Linked DNA regions of Homo sapiens. The protein of the gene in region 2 purifies or fractionates together with the protein of the main gene of each other region. This does not show direct contact. Each region holds a gene or a part of one and is shown on either strand. Other genes may lie near its edges.

What was found. Proteins that work in one complex are often made in the same cells at the same time.
Region 1: the proteins of DKK3 (region 2) and ABCB10 purify together in Homo sapiens (co-immunoprecipitation; 3 studies listed by BioGRID and IntAct, with this or other methods). This does not show direct contact.

The regions. Positions count from the first base shown.
Region 1 is NC_000001.11:229,555,692-229,563,424, forward strand, and holds the start of ABCB10 (ATP-binding cassette sub-family B member 10, mitochondrial), read right to left. Parts: upstream 3,017-7,733; 5' UTR 2,962-3,016; coding exon 2,445-2,961; intron 2,372-2,444; exon of another isoform or gene 1,049-2,371; intron 1-1,048.
Region 2 is NC_000011.10:11,963,608-11,970,629, forward strand, and holds part of DKK3 (dickkopf-related protein 3 isoform 1 precursor), read right to left. Parts: intron 4,881-7,022; coding exon 4,788-4,880; intron 3,492-4,787; coding exon 3,347-3,491; intron 2,359-3,346; coding exon 2,202-2,358; intron 1,122-2,201; coding exon of another isoform or gene 1,080-1,121; coding exon 857-1,079; 3' UTR 1-856. UniProt on the Homo sapiens protein: Antagonizes canonical Wnt signaling by inhibiting LRP5/6 interaction with Wnt and by forming a ternary complex with the transmembrane protein KREMEN that promotes internalization of LRP5/6.

The DNA.
Region 1 (7,733 bases), on a different chromosome or scaffold from region 2:
TCCTTTTCAGCTCAGCTTTTTTAGTGTTTTGATTAGAAAATACACACACGCAATTGCTCTTTACCTCCAGCATTTCAAAGAGATGTGCCAACACCTCAGGCTGCTCTTAGAATGATAAATTACACATTTTTTTTTAATTACAAATTAACAATGACCACCACTTCCTCTTAATCCTAACTGGCTTTAATATATAATAACTTCTCAGGAAATCATACATCTAAATAAGGGCTTTTTATCAGATATCCTTATCCTCATAACATACAATATGTATTTATCTGTTTGAAAAGCAAAAAAAAAAAAAAAAATAGTGTGCCAACCCTAGGCTTGTTTCTTCAAATTATATATTCATAATTTCTCAATGTGGTGGAACAAAATATATTCTGTTCTTAAAATAAAAAGAAGGCCGGGTGCAGTGGCTCACACCTGTAATCCCAGCACCTTTGGAAGGCCAAGGTGGGCAGATCACCCGAGGTCGGGAGTTCGAGACCACCCTGACCAACATGGAGAAACTCTGTCTCCAAAAATACAAAATTAGCCGGGTATGATGGCACATGCCTGTAATCCCAGCTACTTGGGAGGCTGAGGCAGGAAGATCGCTTGAACCCGGGAGGCGGAGGTTGCGGTGAGGTGAGATCACGCCATTGCACTCCAGCCTGGGCAACAAGAGCAAAACTCCATCTCAAAAAAAAAAAAAAAAGGTACGAGCTGGGTGTGGTGGCACATGCCTGTAGTCCCAACTACTCAGGAGGTAGAGGCAGAGCTGCTTGAGCTGAGGAGTTCAACACAAGTCTCAGCAACACAGTGAGACCCCTATCCCAGAAAAACAAAAGAAGAAAGAAAAAAGGAGGCAGTCTCGTCTTGTTTAAGGCTGTCACCAAAACATACTAGCATGGCAGGATATCTGGGGACAGAGTGAGGGGTCACAGGAACAATGGTCATGGCATAAGAGGACTGGGCACGTGTAGGCCACCAAAGCCTGACACCTAAACACCCTTCCTGACATCTAGTATTTCAGAAACAAAACAGAACTGGATTTCCTTACACTTACTTTGAGTCACATACAGAAGTGGTGGGCGCACCCGATGATGCTCAGGGTTTCTAAAGGCCTCACTCTGTGCCTGGTGGTATGGTCATTTATTCCTTCACTGAAGGCACTCTGAGCGCCTGCTCTGTGCCGTGCACATGCTAAGAACTAGAGACAGAAAGATGAATCGCACAGTCCCCGTCTCAAGCAGCTCAAAGTCCAGTGAGAGCTCCTAGTCTCCAATGTTTTTAAAAAGAGGAAAGAGAAAAAGATATTTTACAACAAAATCTACACTCAACCAACTGAACAATGAAATAATTCTCTTTACACCCGAGTGATATCAACAGCCCCCTAAGCTTTCATAGCAACTGGTAGATGAAAAGTCGCCACCCTAACTGCTCTCCTCCACTGTGCAAACCTACTCTAAATCCCAAATCACTACCCAGGAGGGTCCTTTCTAAAGCAATGGATTTGCAGCAAAGAATGCTTTTCTGGTGTTGCACCTGACAACCTCACAGGCCCCACAGGCCCCCTTCCACAGCCCACAGGTGCAGGTTTACCTCTATACATACGAATATTTCATAGATGCTTCTCCCCACTAACCTAGAAGCCCCAGCAGAAGTGAGGACCATGTTTCCTTGTGCATGCCACTGTAAACCCAGGGCCCAGTCCAGAATGAGGGCTCAACAGATGTTTATAGAAGGAGTGAAGATTTAGAGAAATCGAAAAAATTTTAGATCTTACAAGGCCCTTGCATCTAAACACTCCTCCAATTATGGCTAAAAAATGAGGAGCTATAGAAAACTGTCCTATTTAAATTTTGTTTCTAAAAACATTCATTTTGGCTTCTTTTAAAAAAGTTACTCAATTACTGAACAGATCACTGGTGTGGCCTGTTGAACACAGTGCTGTAACTTCCTGCACAAGAGACAAGTCTGAAAGTTTTGCTTTCCGCTGTGAAAGCATTGGTGACTGCTTGACAGACTCGCTTGAAGCAAATAATGTGTTTTTGGTTAAAAAAAAAAAGTATAAACGCCTAATAACAAAATAGGCATATTTTTGGCTAGAATTTTTTTTTCCAAGGAAAAACCTCCAGCTCATTTTGCTGCCTAAGCCAAAACAGATGCTCCCACTAAGTTGGTGGTGGAACAGACCCAAAGATTCCAATAATGACATATATAACGTGTGTCAACAAGAAAACAAGTGTAAAATCTGCAAACGAGTCCCCAGCTAAGGCGAAATCTTGACAACGCTACTCTGAGGTGAGCGATCCCCTCCCTCCTCCGGGGTTAGGAGTGGCCCAGGAGAGGCGGCGGTGACACGCGCTCTGCGGCCCGGCCGTGTCCCTCTCGGCGCCCCGGGACCCCGCGTGTGGAGAAGGAGAGGCCCGGCGGAGGGAAGTGGCCGGGGAGGACCCTACCTGCCAGCCTCCGGCGCTCAGGGTACGCCAGCCCCAGGAGCTTCCGGGCCTCCGGGAGTCCGGCCGCTGCGGGGCGCAGCCGCCCCTTGTCCCCGGGAGGCGCCGCCGGCCCGCGCCGCCAGGCCTCGTCCCCTGCCCAGGCAGCGGCTGCGGGACCGCCCGGGAACCGGGCGCGCGGGAGCCGAGGAGCGCCTGGCCCGGCAAAAGCCCCGCACCTGCAGCTGCCGGGGCCGCGAGCCCACAGCCCCAGGAGCCGCGCGAGGCCCAGGACGCCCCGCGAGGCGCCCGGACCCCCGCCCCGGCAGCCGCTCCTCCAGCGGCGCGCGGCTCCAACGCCCCAGAGCAGCGCGGGCCCCGCGCCCCATAGCCGCGCCGGCCTCAGGCCAGTGAACGGCGATAGGGACCCGGGAACGCGGCTGGCCGCGGCCCACACGCAGGCTACCGGCAGGAGCCGACCTGGCTCGGCAGGGCTCGGTGGCTCGAGCAGCCGCAGCGGCCAGGCAGGGGGGCCTCGCATGGCGCTGCGTGCGACCCGTACGCCTCAGCCCGCCGGCCAGGCGCGCGCAAAGCCCGAGGACCCTCCCGGCCCGGCCCCGAGCAAAGGGCGTGGACGCGGTGGCGCCCGCCCCTCCCCGCTGGCTGTCACCCGCCTTATCGTGCCTGCACCCTCGGGCTGCGCCCGCCCCCGCCCCATCCTCGTCCGCGCGGTGCCGCGCCTCTCCGCCCCACTCCGGGGACTGCAGCTACCCGGACCTTGCAAGCCACCCTTCCGAGCGCCCCCAACCCGCTCGGGTGCCCTCCCTGCAGCGCCCCCAACTGCCCGCTGGCGGAGGAGCGCCGGGCGCGCCAGCTGGGACGAGGCCCGGGAAGCCCAGGAGCACGGCTGCGCCTGCGTACTGGGCGCAGGGAACTTTTTCGCGCTTCGCCGTCCCCTCTGGTCTGAACTTGGGAACGACACGAGCTCTTTCTCACGCCGGCAGACCGGGCGGAGCGCGCAGACGCGACCACACGATGGCCGGCACAAAGATGGGGCGGGAGGACAGCGTGCTGGATACGGCGTGGGGCGGGTCCGCGGCCCGGGAGACCCATGCTGGGGCGGCCCTGTCACTCGTCTCGCTGCCAAGCACAGGGCTGAGGTGCGGAGGGACCACTGAGAGGACTTCGCTGCGTGTCAGCTCAGCTCTGGACGGCGTGGAGGAGGTGGTTGGCGAATAGTGAAATGTATATAACTTTGAGAAGGGAAGAGATCGTTTCTTTTTTTTCTTTTTTTTTTTTTTCTTGAGACGATCTCGGCTCACTGCAACCTCTGCCTCCCAGGTTCAAGTGATTCTCCCTTCTCAGCCTCCCAAGTAGCTGGGATTACAGGCATACGCCACCACACCCGGCTGATTTTGTATTTTTAGTAGAGACGGGGTTTTACCATGTTGGTCAGGCTCTTTTCGAACTCCTGACCTCAGGTGATCCGCCCGCGTCAGCCTCCCAAAGTGCTGGGATTGCAGGCGTGAGCCACCGTGCCCGGCCTGAGATCGTTTCTTAACTAGAGCAGAAATTTGAAGACAGGCGTGGTCGAGGCATTCCCGCTGTTCGAAGTGGAAAACACTAATCAGAAGGCAATGCATCTTAATACACGTGCATGGAAAGACAGGAGAGAACATTAAAACTCACTGGGACACTTTATGGAGACTTCATGGGGGCGGGGGGGGATATGTACCTGAGGTCCAGTGAGTCGTGGGTAGATTTTTGTAGACTCCTAGGTATTTTTACTGGACCTGGACAGGGTACTGTCAGTTGCAAATTTTATGGGTTCACAAAATAAAAAAACCTCAATAATCAACATAAACATTTTAGTGCAATATTTTTAAAAATCAAAATTAATTTAAAAAATCCGTAATGAACAAAATATAAAAAATTTTGATTGAGTATCCACTCCTGACCTTTCACAATCCTGCCTCTCTTCTCTCGCTCTAATCCCAGCCCTGGAAACTTTATTTACAAAAACTGACAGCAGCTGCCCTTAGTTTGGCAGCTGGAAAATGGGAAAGAGAAAGTAAGAGGAAGGTGAGATTTGGGTTAAAGTTGTCACTTTCTCTTCAACTGGGAGGGTATCAATCCTTGATGTTTCTTTAGTTGGGCTCAAAAAGGAGGTAGCGGCCGGGCGCGGTGGCTCACACCTGTAATCCCAACATTTTGGGAGGCTGAGGCGGGCGAATCACGAGGTCAGGAGTTCGAGACCAGCCTGACCGACGTGGTGAAACCCCGTCCCTACTAAAAATACAAAAATTAGCCAGGTGTGGTGGAGCGTGCCTGTAATCCCAGCTACGCAGGAGGCTGAGGCAGGAGAATTGCTTGAACCCGGGAGGCGGAGGTTGCAGTGAGCTGAGATGGTGCCACACCGCACTCCAGCCTGGGAGACAGAGCAAGACTCCGTCTCAAAAAAAAAAAAGAAAAGAAAAAAAAAGAGGAGGTAGCGGCCAGGCGGTGGCTCACACCTGTAATCCCAACATTCTAGGAGGCCGAGGCGGGCGGATCACTCCAGGTCTGGAGTTTGAGACCAGCCTGGCCAACATGGTGAAACTCCATCCCTACTGAAAATACAAAAATTAGCTGGGCTTGGTGGTGCATGCCTGTAGTCTCAGCTACTTGGGACGCTGAGGGAGCATAATCGGTTGAATCCAGGAGGTGGAGGTTGCAGTGAGCTGAGATCACGTCACTGCACTCCATGCACTCTAGCCTGGGCGACACACCAAGACTGCATCTTTTCAAAACAAAATAAAAACAAAAAAAACACAAAGAGGAGGTAGCAAGATGCACAATGAAAACGATCCCATTTCTTTTCAGAAGTCACCTCATAAAAACTGACTTAAAAATTTTCAATTAAAATAAATTTTGCATGATTTGATTACTGAGACTTTTTAGCACATCTTTAAATTTTGTCCCTAGTAGAGTGCCTTAAGTATATGGTCCTGGTAGGTAAGGAGTGAGGTGGGGGAAGGATCGATAATAGAAAGTGTGGGGTTAAGTCGGGCCTTAAATGTGCCTGTGAAATGAGCAGTAAGCATGTAATCCTCTAAAGTCCAACCTCTTAAACCCAGAGGACATGGAGTCTCGCCTCCCTACCCCCGCCCCCCCACTTTCCTGCCCCCAGGGTGACGACAATTCAAGCTAGTTTCTCATCAGTGCAGAAGTTCTAGAATTGGTGGTGTAGTGTGAAATCAGCTCCACTGATATTTATGACTAAGCATGTTCCTTTTAGCAAATATGTTATTCAGTGACTTCTGAAAAGAAGTAGGATCATGCCTCATCATGCATCCTGCTACCTCTTCTTTGAGCCCAGCTGAAGAAACATCAATGAACGACACTCTCCCAGTTGGAGAGAAAGTGACAATTTTAACCTAGACCTAAGCTTCATCTTTCTCTTACCCACTTTCCAGAAAACCCCTGCTGCTGCAAGGGCCAGGAAATGTCAGACTGGCCTTCCCTTCCTGCCTTCCCTGGCATGGCATCCCACTGCCTTTTTCTGCCATTGCTCTCTAAGGCCTCCAGTCAATAGAAAAATAACTCAAGTGTAGCTGATTAAAAAACAAAACTTGGCCAGGTGTGGTGGCTCACGCCTGTAATCCCAACACTTTGGGAAGCCAAGGTGGGAAGATCATTTGAGGCCAGGAGTTTGAGACCAACCTGTGCAACACTGGGAGACTCCATCTGTACAAAAACTAAAAATGTAAAAATTAGCTGGGTGTGGTGGTGTGTGCCTGTAGTCCCAGATACTTGGGAGGCTAAAGTGGAAGGATTCCCTGAGCCCGGCAGGTCAAAGCTTCAGTGAGCTGTGATTGGGCCACTGCACTCAAGCCTGGGCAACAGAGTGAGACCCTGTATCAAGAAAAAAAAGAAAGCCTGTAATCCCAGCACTTTGGGAGGCTGAGGTGGGTGGATCACCTGAGGTCAGGAGTTCAAGACCAGCCTGGCCAACATGGTGACACTTCATCTCTACTGAAAACACAAAAATTAGCTGTGTGTGGTGGTGGGTGCCTGGAATCCCAGCTACTGGGGAGGCTGAGGCAGGAGAATGGCTTGAACCCAGGAGGCGGAGGTTGCAGTGAGCAGAGATCACACCACTGCACTCCAGCCTGGGCAACAGAGCAAGACTCTGTCTCAAAAAAAAAAAAAGAAAGAAAAGAAAAAAAAAGTCTATAGCTCTTAAAAGTACAATGGGGAATGAATATTAGCAGAAGGATCACCTGGACCTATATTGCCATCACAACAACAACAACAAAAAAGATGACCTACTCTAAATATATATATATATATGTTTATATAACATATACATTTCATATATATATGAATTATTGCTTTGCATTTCTATGACCTTCTCTTCTCACTTGAAAATAAGAATAACTTCACTGCCTCTTTTTTTTTTTTTTTTTTGAGACAGAGTCTCACTTTGTTGCCCAGACTGGAGTGGGCTCACTGCAACCTCCACCTCCCAGGTTCAAGCAATTCTCCTGCCTCAGCCCCCTGAGTAGCTGGGATTACAGGCGCCCACCACCACGCCTGGCTAATTTTGTATTTTTAGTAGAAAAGGGGTTTCACCACATTGGCCAGGCTGGTCTCAAACTCCTGACCTCTGGTAATCCGCCTGCCTCGGCCTCCTAAAGTGCTGGGATTACAGGCATGAGTCACTATGCCCGGCTCTTCACTGCCTCTTTAGAAATTAGGATCAAGTTCCTGGGCCTCTGAAAAAAGCAAAAAAAGAAATAAATAAAGACAAAAAACAAAACAAAAAATGCTCTAAGGTGTGTTTGGAAAAGAATAAAACAAGCCAGTTAGATGTGATTGGATTAATAAAATACCACAGCAAAGCAAGAAAGGGCTGTGTATTAATGCCAAGAGAATAACAAAAGTTTAAGTCCTGCCCACAAGAAAGACACAGAAGGCTCTTGATGGAGGTGTGACTGAACCAAGAGGTAAAATCTGGCCCTCTGAATAGACTCTTAATAGGTTTCGTGGCTAACAGGTATTGAATTCAAAAGGGACTTCTTTTGATGCAAATTGAGAGCTGTTGGGATTACTTCAAGAGCAATTCCACCTGTGGGTGCTTGTCCCTCTCTAAGGGTGGCAAAGGAGGGAGCCCATGTGGACAGCAGGAACGGGTACACGATAGCACAAGAATCAAAACAAAGGCTCTCTGGTCGGAGTTTGTAAGCTGATTAGGGGTGTCATTTGACCCTTATTGGTACATTCTTGTTCTTTCGACTCAAGCCTGCAGCTCATCATGTCAAGGGTAGGGTG
Region 2 (7,022 bases):
GAATTAGTTTGACCTTAATTCCAGATGTGCATGCCTCAAAAGAAAAATCCCATTCTCCTTCCTTTTGGGGAGCACTTTTGGTGGCACCAAGGCTGGTGTGGGGTAGTGGAGAGAGCACTGAGCTTAGAGTCACAACCAGATGAAACTGCTCTGGTCTTCACTAGCTGTGTGACTTGGGCAAGCAGCTTGCAGTCTCTGAGCCTCTGAGATCCCTGATGGACGAGGAGAACAATGACCCCCTCCCCAGGCTGTGCTGAGAGAGGGAATTGATCTTGGATATGAAAATGCTGCCCTGGCACAGAGGTAGGAGCTGAGCAACACTGCTGGATGAATAAACACATGTAATGCAGGGTGAACAGAACATTTCATCTGCAACAGCTGAAGGCACAGCTTACCTATGCCCATGGAAAGAACTGCGTGGAAAATTCATTTGTTGCATTTTTGCCAGGTTGATGTTTGCAAAGCAGGGCACTCTTCTCCACATTTCCCCAAAACCAATCAGAGGGAGACTCCACATTGTTTCCATCTCCTCCCCTCAAACAATTATCAAAGCCATGTAGAACAAACGGCTGTCTGCCAACTGGTAGAGGCAAAGCAGCCAATAATCTGGACAGGGGTGGCAAACTGCTCCTGCAGTTTAACCCTGCCTGACTCTCCCAAGCACCAGACTGTGAAGCCTGGAGAACAGCCTGGGGGAGCTGAACAAATGCACAACACCTCATGCTGTCAAGCCAGAGGGGAAACTTACTGGGAAGAAGATGTAGGAAGAAGCCTGGTCAGCCCACGCCTAAAGCACACACCTGGGGAAATAAATTAGCTATTTCTATTGCACATCTACCCACAGCCTGGTCCAGATCTAAATCTCTTCCCCTCCCAGCAGTGCAGCGGCGGCAGCCGCAGGCTCCCTCAGCGCCATCTCTTCAGTCAGGCTCCTCTCCAGGTCCTCCAGCTCCTGGCGCACCTCCTCCATGAAGCTGCCAACTTCATACTCATCGGGGACCTCTCTGGGCAGCAGGATCTCCCCATCTTGGTCACGGCTCCCCACGAAGGTCGGCTTGCACACATACACCAGGCTGTGGCTGGGGAGAGATGGGACAAAGCCAGGCTCTAAACGTGGGAGCCTGCCCAGGCCGAAAGCTAAGGCGCCCTGACTCTGTGGGGCTCCCAGCCTCACCTTCATGCCCCCTCCTCTCCTGTCTCTTCAACAGAGACACTTCACTTCCCGTCAACATCTATCTTAAAATGATGGCTGAGGGAGGCTCACTTTGGGAGAATGTGCTGGTGGGGGGCAGCTTCCCCTCCTCCAGCGCAGGCCTGACCTCCTGTGACTCTCAGGCCCCGCAGCCCAGGGGCAGGACCTGAGTGCTATGTAGCAGCACCACAGCCCCTCAAAGACTGTGGCCCATTCGGGCCTCCAGGCAGGAGTCAGCCTGACTCTGGGGTGTAGTCTAGCCACATGCAGGGAGCCATGGACCTCTGTGGGAATAGGGAGGAAGAATTCCTTTTTTTAAAAAAAATTAATGTGTTTGGTAGAGACGGGATCTCCCTATGTTGCCCAGGCTGGTCTTGAACTCTTGGCCTCAAGCAATCCTCCTGCATTGGCCTCCCAAAGCTCTGGGATTACAGGTGTGAGCCACTGCACAGAGCCGTGGGGAATGGGAGTTCTGCCTGTCTGCCCAGCAGCCCTGGATTCTGTTGGGAGAGAAGACTGAGTAGAGGCTGCGGGGAGGACAGGGAGATGTGCCCTGAGAAGCTGGCCAGGCTTGAGCCTCATGCCTCATGGAGTCTCAGCAGCCTCAGACAGTGTGGGCTGCACCCTCCACCTTGGTGGCCACTCCTGGCCTCCCCGTGGCCTCTCTGCCAGCTCCTTTTTCTCTGCTTATCTGTCATTGTGACAGGTCTGGGGAGGGAGCCCAGGCTTTTCTCCCTCCATGTCCTCTCCATGGACCATCCACTCATGAAGCTTCAGCCACCAGCTAGATGAGCCCCAGATCTGTGCCTCCTGGGCAGCCTGGGCTCCAGACCCCTAGAACCGACTGCTGATTGGACCCTTCCATCTGCATGACCCAACGACCTCTCAAACCAATCCTAAAGGGAATCTACACCTCCCCCAGGGAAAACCTGCTCCTGCTCCTACGCCCCTGCTGGATGGCACCTCCTCAGCCCTTGGCTCCCTGAGAGTGAGGGTTAGGGGGCCTCACCTGTGGGGCTGGCAGAGGAGGCCACTGGCACAAGGGCATCGGTCCAAGGCTCCATCAGGCTCTAGCTCCCAGGTGATGAGGTCCAGAAGCCGGCTGGCGGGGTCATGGCAAAGCTCGCCCTCCACGGGCAGGGGTGTGCACACAGGGAACAGCAGGCCTGGAACCAGCCCAGAGTCACCCCTGTGTGCCCCGTGTAGGGTAGAAGGGCTCCAAAGGGAGGGGCAAAGAAATGGAGCATAACCTCCCACCTCCCACCCTCAACCCCAAAGTGCAGGCTAGTTTTGAAGATACGGAATGACAGGAAACAAGAATAGCAGCCTGGGCTCAGGAGGGAATGATTGGTAGGGCTGAAGCAGGGAGGACTGCCTGGAAGAGGTGGGCTTCTGCTGGATTTTGAGGGCCAGAAAGTCTGGAGAAATTAAGAGGGAGGCAAAGGCATTCAGGCACAGGGACAGCACCAGCAAAGGCCTGGGGTTGAGCTCAGTGGAAAATGTCAGGGCCGGTGAAATTCCCAAATAGGCCAAGAAGTAGTGGAGAGAAAAGGAGGGCAAGTAAGTTGGAGCTGCATGAGGCCTCACAAGACAGCCTAAGGAGTCTGAACATCGTGGGAGACAACAGGAGCTGCTGCAGGTCCCAGGGGAGCAACACCCAAAAAGCAGCCCTTTAGGAAGATCACGGAGGCGGCAGGTACAGGGAGGACTAGTGGGCTGGGGATGCAGAGCTGGGGAGGCGGCAAATGAGAATTTTTCAAAACCCTAGTGGGGGCGGAGAGAGCCTGAGCAGACCTCACCTGGGAGAGGCAGGACGGAAGATGGGAGTGGAAGCGGGTGATTCACAGGTAGAGGAACCTGGGAAATAAGGAGTGGTGGGAGGGAGGGGGCTGCTAGTCCCACCCCATTCCAGACTGGGCTTTTGCATCCTGAAGTCATTTAACTTTTCTGAGCATCAACAGGGGAAAAAAAAGAGGTGGTCTTCCCACTCCGGGCAGAGGCTGTGGGAGTGCAGCACACACTGATGAGCATTTGGGAGCCTATCCAAGAGGTGGGACGCGAAACCATGTGGTTGGCATGGACGTGGCTCCAGGAGGTCCAGTGTGGTGGAGCTTGGGACAGGGTTTTTCCTGCATCTGAGGGGAGGCCACTCACCTCTCTGGAAGGCACAGCACAGCCCCGGCTGGCAGTCCCTCTGGTTGTCACAGATGGTCCCATTGCTGCCCCTGGTGGCCATTTTGGTGCAGTGACCCCAGACACACAGCTGGTCTCCACAGCACTCACTGTCCCGGGTGCAGAGCTGCAGACAGGTGGAAAGAGCCTAGAGCCAGCGGCTTAGGGACTGGGGGCCTGCTGAGAGCCCAGCCTGAAGATACCACAGATAGGCCAACCTGCATCCTCCCATTGTAGAGACAGGCAGACCAGGCTGAGATTTCAGTGAAAGTCAGTGGGACAGAGGTGGGAGCTTGGCTGGCGAGACATGGGGGTCAGAACGCTGGAAAAATGGCACCGGGAGGACTCATGGATCTGAGTCTTTCTCCACAGCTTAAGATTTTGCAAAGAACAGCAGGGGGTCTTTGTGGTCCCCACAGACTTGTGCTGTTCCCTTTTTCCTTAGGTCCCTAGGTCCAGGCCCAAAGAGGCAAGGCCCAATGATGAGCCGATTAAACTAAGGCCCAAGCCAGCCCAAGATGAGGATGGCCTGTGGGTGCCAGGGTCCTGCAGCCACACAGGGCATGGCAGTTAGAGAGCAAAGTGAGGTCCCCACGGCTGTGCCCAGTGACGGTACCGAGTGGGGTTGGCTGCGAGGTGCAACAGCAGTGGCCTCACCACAGACAGTCGGGTAAGGTAATAAGAACTGCTTGACTTTCCAAGCTTATTAGCATGCTGTGTTATTGTCTGAATAAGGAAAAATGACTATGAAAAGTCTGTGAGTCCATGTGGCTTCGTCCAAAATGCCTGTTGGGTGAAGAGTCTCCTTTGCCCTGGCTCCACATTTCCCAATCTAACCTGCACTGGGGCAGTGCCCTGGCCTCTTCTTGCCCTGTCCCTCTGCCCTCTCTTATTGGCAGATTGGAGAAAGATCTGGTGGGTGGGGTGCAGGTCCAGAAGGAGAGCAGCTGCCGCTCTCCCTGCCTGGGGGCTGCCGGAATGTCTCTGTTTGTCTATTAGGATGGGTCATCCCCAGGGGAAGCAACAGGTGTAGGGACACCTCCTCTCCCTTCCCTCCCCTTCTCGAACTCCCGGCCTCAATAGATCCTTCTGCCTTGGTCTCCCCAAAGTGCTGGGATTACAGGTGTAGCCACGGTGCCTGGCCGTCCCTCCCCTTCTCTACCATCAATGACACAAACAACATGACCAGAGGACATGGGGTGGATGGGAGTGGCCCTGGGTCTGCAGATGGCTTCCTGTCATCCCAAACTGGAATGAGTTCCTTGTCCTCCAGGAGTCAGCCCTCTGGGGAGCCCTCTTGGGTCCTCCCCATCATGGTGAGGCTCTTCTGGGAAGCCCAGCTGAGAACGCTGGGGCCCCTGGCTTTCTCCCCCAGGTGCCTGAGACCCTGGTGCCACAGCCCCAGAGGCCCTGGCATACTCACCATCCTCTGGCCCCGGCATGGCTGGCAGGTGTACTGGAAGCTGGCAAACTGGCAGTACATGCTGGGCCCACAGTCCTCGTCGATGATGCACTCCTGGGGAAGGGCACAGGGAGCAGATGTGTCAATGGAGAGCAGAGCAGCAGGCCCACAGTGCCCAGGAAGGGCCAGGCCCGCTTCCATTCCCCATTCTTGACCCCACAGGCTCAGCAGGGTCAGGAAAGGCCTCCAGACTCTAGTCGCTCCTGATCCCTGCCTGGCTGCACTGCCCTTCAGCATCTCCATGCCTAGGAGGCTTGGCAGCCCAGAGCCTGGAGGATCCCACACCAAATTCACACAATCGCCATCTGTGCACAGTTCTCCCCCACCCACACCCAGGGCGGGAGCACAGGGACTCAGGGCTGGTCTTCCACACAGAACATATGGATTTAATAAAAAGTGCTAATGAGGTCCAGGCCCGCCCGACTGCACAGGAAAGGCTGGAAGACAGGCCCCAAGGGCTCTGCTGACTGTGAAGACTGGGAGGCAGCAGAGGGGGCATCGCTAGGGACCCTGCCAGAAAGCCACAGCCCTGCCCACAGAGAGCGCCCTCAGGGTCCTGGGTCTAGGGTCCCTGCAAGAGGGAAAGGCAGCTGCCAGCTTGGAAATGAATTAGAGGAGGGTGGCTGGACTCCAGCCCTCCCAGCCCAGGTGCTGTCTCCTCATGGCTGCCAGCTCTGCCTGGCTGGAGAAACAGGGAGAGAAGGAGTGAGGGGAATCTGTCCACCCCAAGGCCTGAGTCACAGAACAGGGAGCCATGGCCGAGGGCACTGTGACCTGCCATGGTCGCCGGTCACTGGCAGAAGCAGGGCTGCTTCAGCTCCTGGACCTGCTGTCAGGCTCAGGCCTACGAACCGGCAGCTTTACAGCAGGGGAAGGAGGGCAGGGGAGGAGGGAACATGATGACAGGAATGGCCATTGATCGCCCTTTTGAGGTATCAGGCTTGACGGCCCTGATCTTGTTCAGTGACTCCTCCCAGCAGGAGGCAGGTAGGGACTGCCTTCTCTATATTGCCAGCCGGGAAATGGAGGCAGAGAGGTCCCTCCAAGATAATGTGACTAGTTCAGGGTGGAGGGTCTCTTTCCACCACCAGCCCTTGAGCCAAGGGGGTTCAGGGCTCCACATGTAGCAGCCAGTGGTGAGAAGGACCCTCCTGAGGCCTGGTATTCTGGGGCCCAGCAGACCTTCTGGAAGGGTCTTGAGGAAGGGAAGGACCGGCTCTCCCCTCTGACCCAGAGCATCCTCCCCATCCTGAATGCAGGTGTGGAGCCCCACCTGGAAGAGCCTGGCCGGGCAGGCCTGGACCTCCGGCAGCTGCCTCCAGTCCCCTTCCAGGGGCTCTGCTGCTCTGATCAACACTGCAAGTGCTGGCGGCCCAGCAACCAGGGTGCTCCCTTGCCAAGCATTGATGCTTTTGTTTCAGTTACTTTCCCAGCACCCCTTAAATGTCAGGCATGATACCATCGCTGTTTTTACGGATAAGAAAACCGAGGCTCCGAGTAGGGTGAACGGCCGCCCAAGTGAAGGGACTGAGTCTGAGCCAGAGCCCCAGCGGCCAGAGAAGTCCCAACAGGGCTGGGAACAAATCACAGACGCGCTTTGTCTCAGCCCAGCACACGCTCTTGTGCACAGACACAACTCAGGCTGCTCAGCCGGAAGCCTCCCGACGTTCTTTCCAAAGCAGAATGGCAAGAAAATGGAGTGGGAGGGACGACATTTGGGAGAAAGGAAGGGCCAACAGGCACAGAATCCCTTCTCTGAACCAGCCATATTTTGAGGGACTGGGGACACAAAGGTGAATGTGAGGAGGCCTCTGCCCTTAAGAAATTCGTAATTCAATTGGAAAAAGAGAGAGAGAAAGAGCAACCCAGTGGCAAAGGAGACAAAGGGTATGAACGGACAACTTAGAATAACAGAAATTTGCCTCTTCAAATAGAAAGGCGTTCAACCTCACCAATGAAATCAATCAAGAAATGCAACTTAAAAGAGCATAACACCATTTTTTTCACTTAGAATGGAAGAAATTAGAAAGGTTGAATGTCTCCATGGTGGGTGGAATAACAGCACCCCCAAAGATGTTCACATCCTATTCCCCGGAACCTGTGGGTATGTTATATTACATAGGAAGGGGAAATTAGAGGCAGAGGGAATGCAGGTTGCTAATCAGCTGACCTGAAGGTAGGGAGCGCACTCTGGAT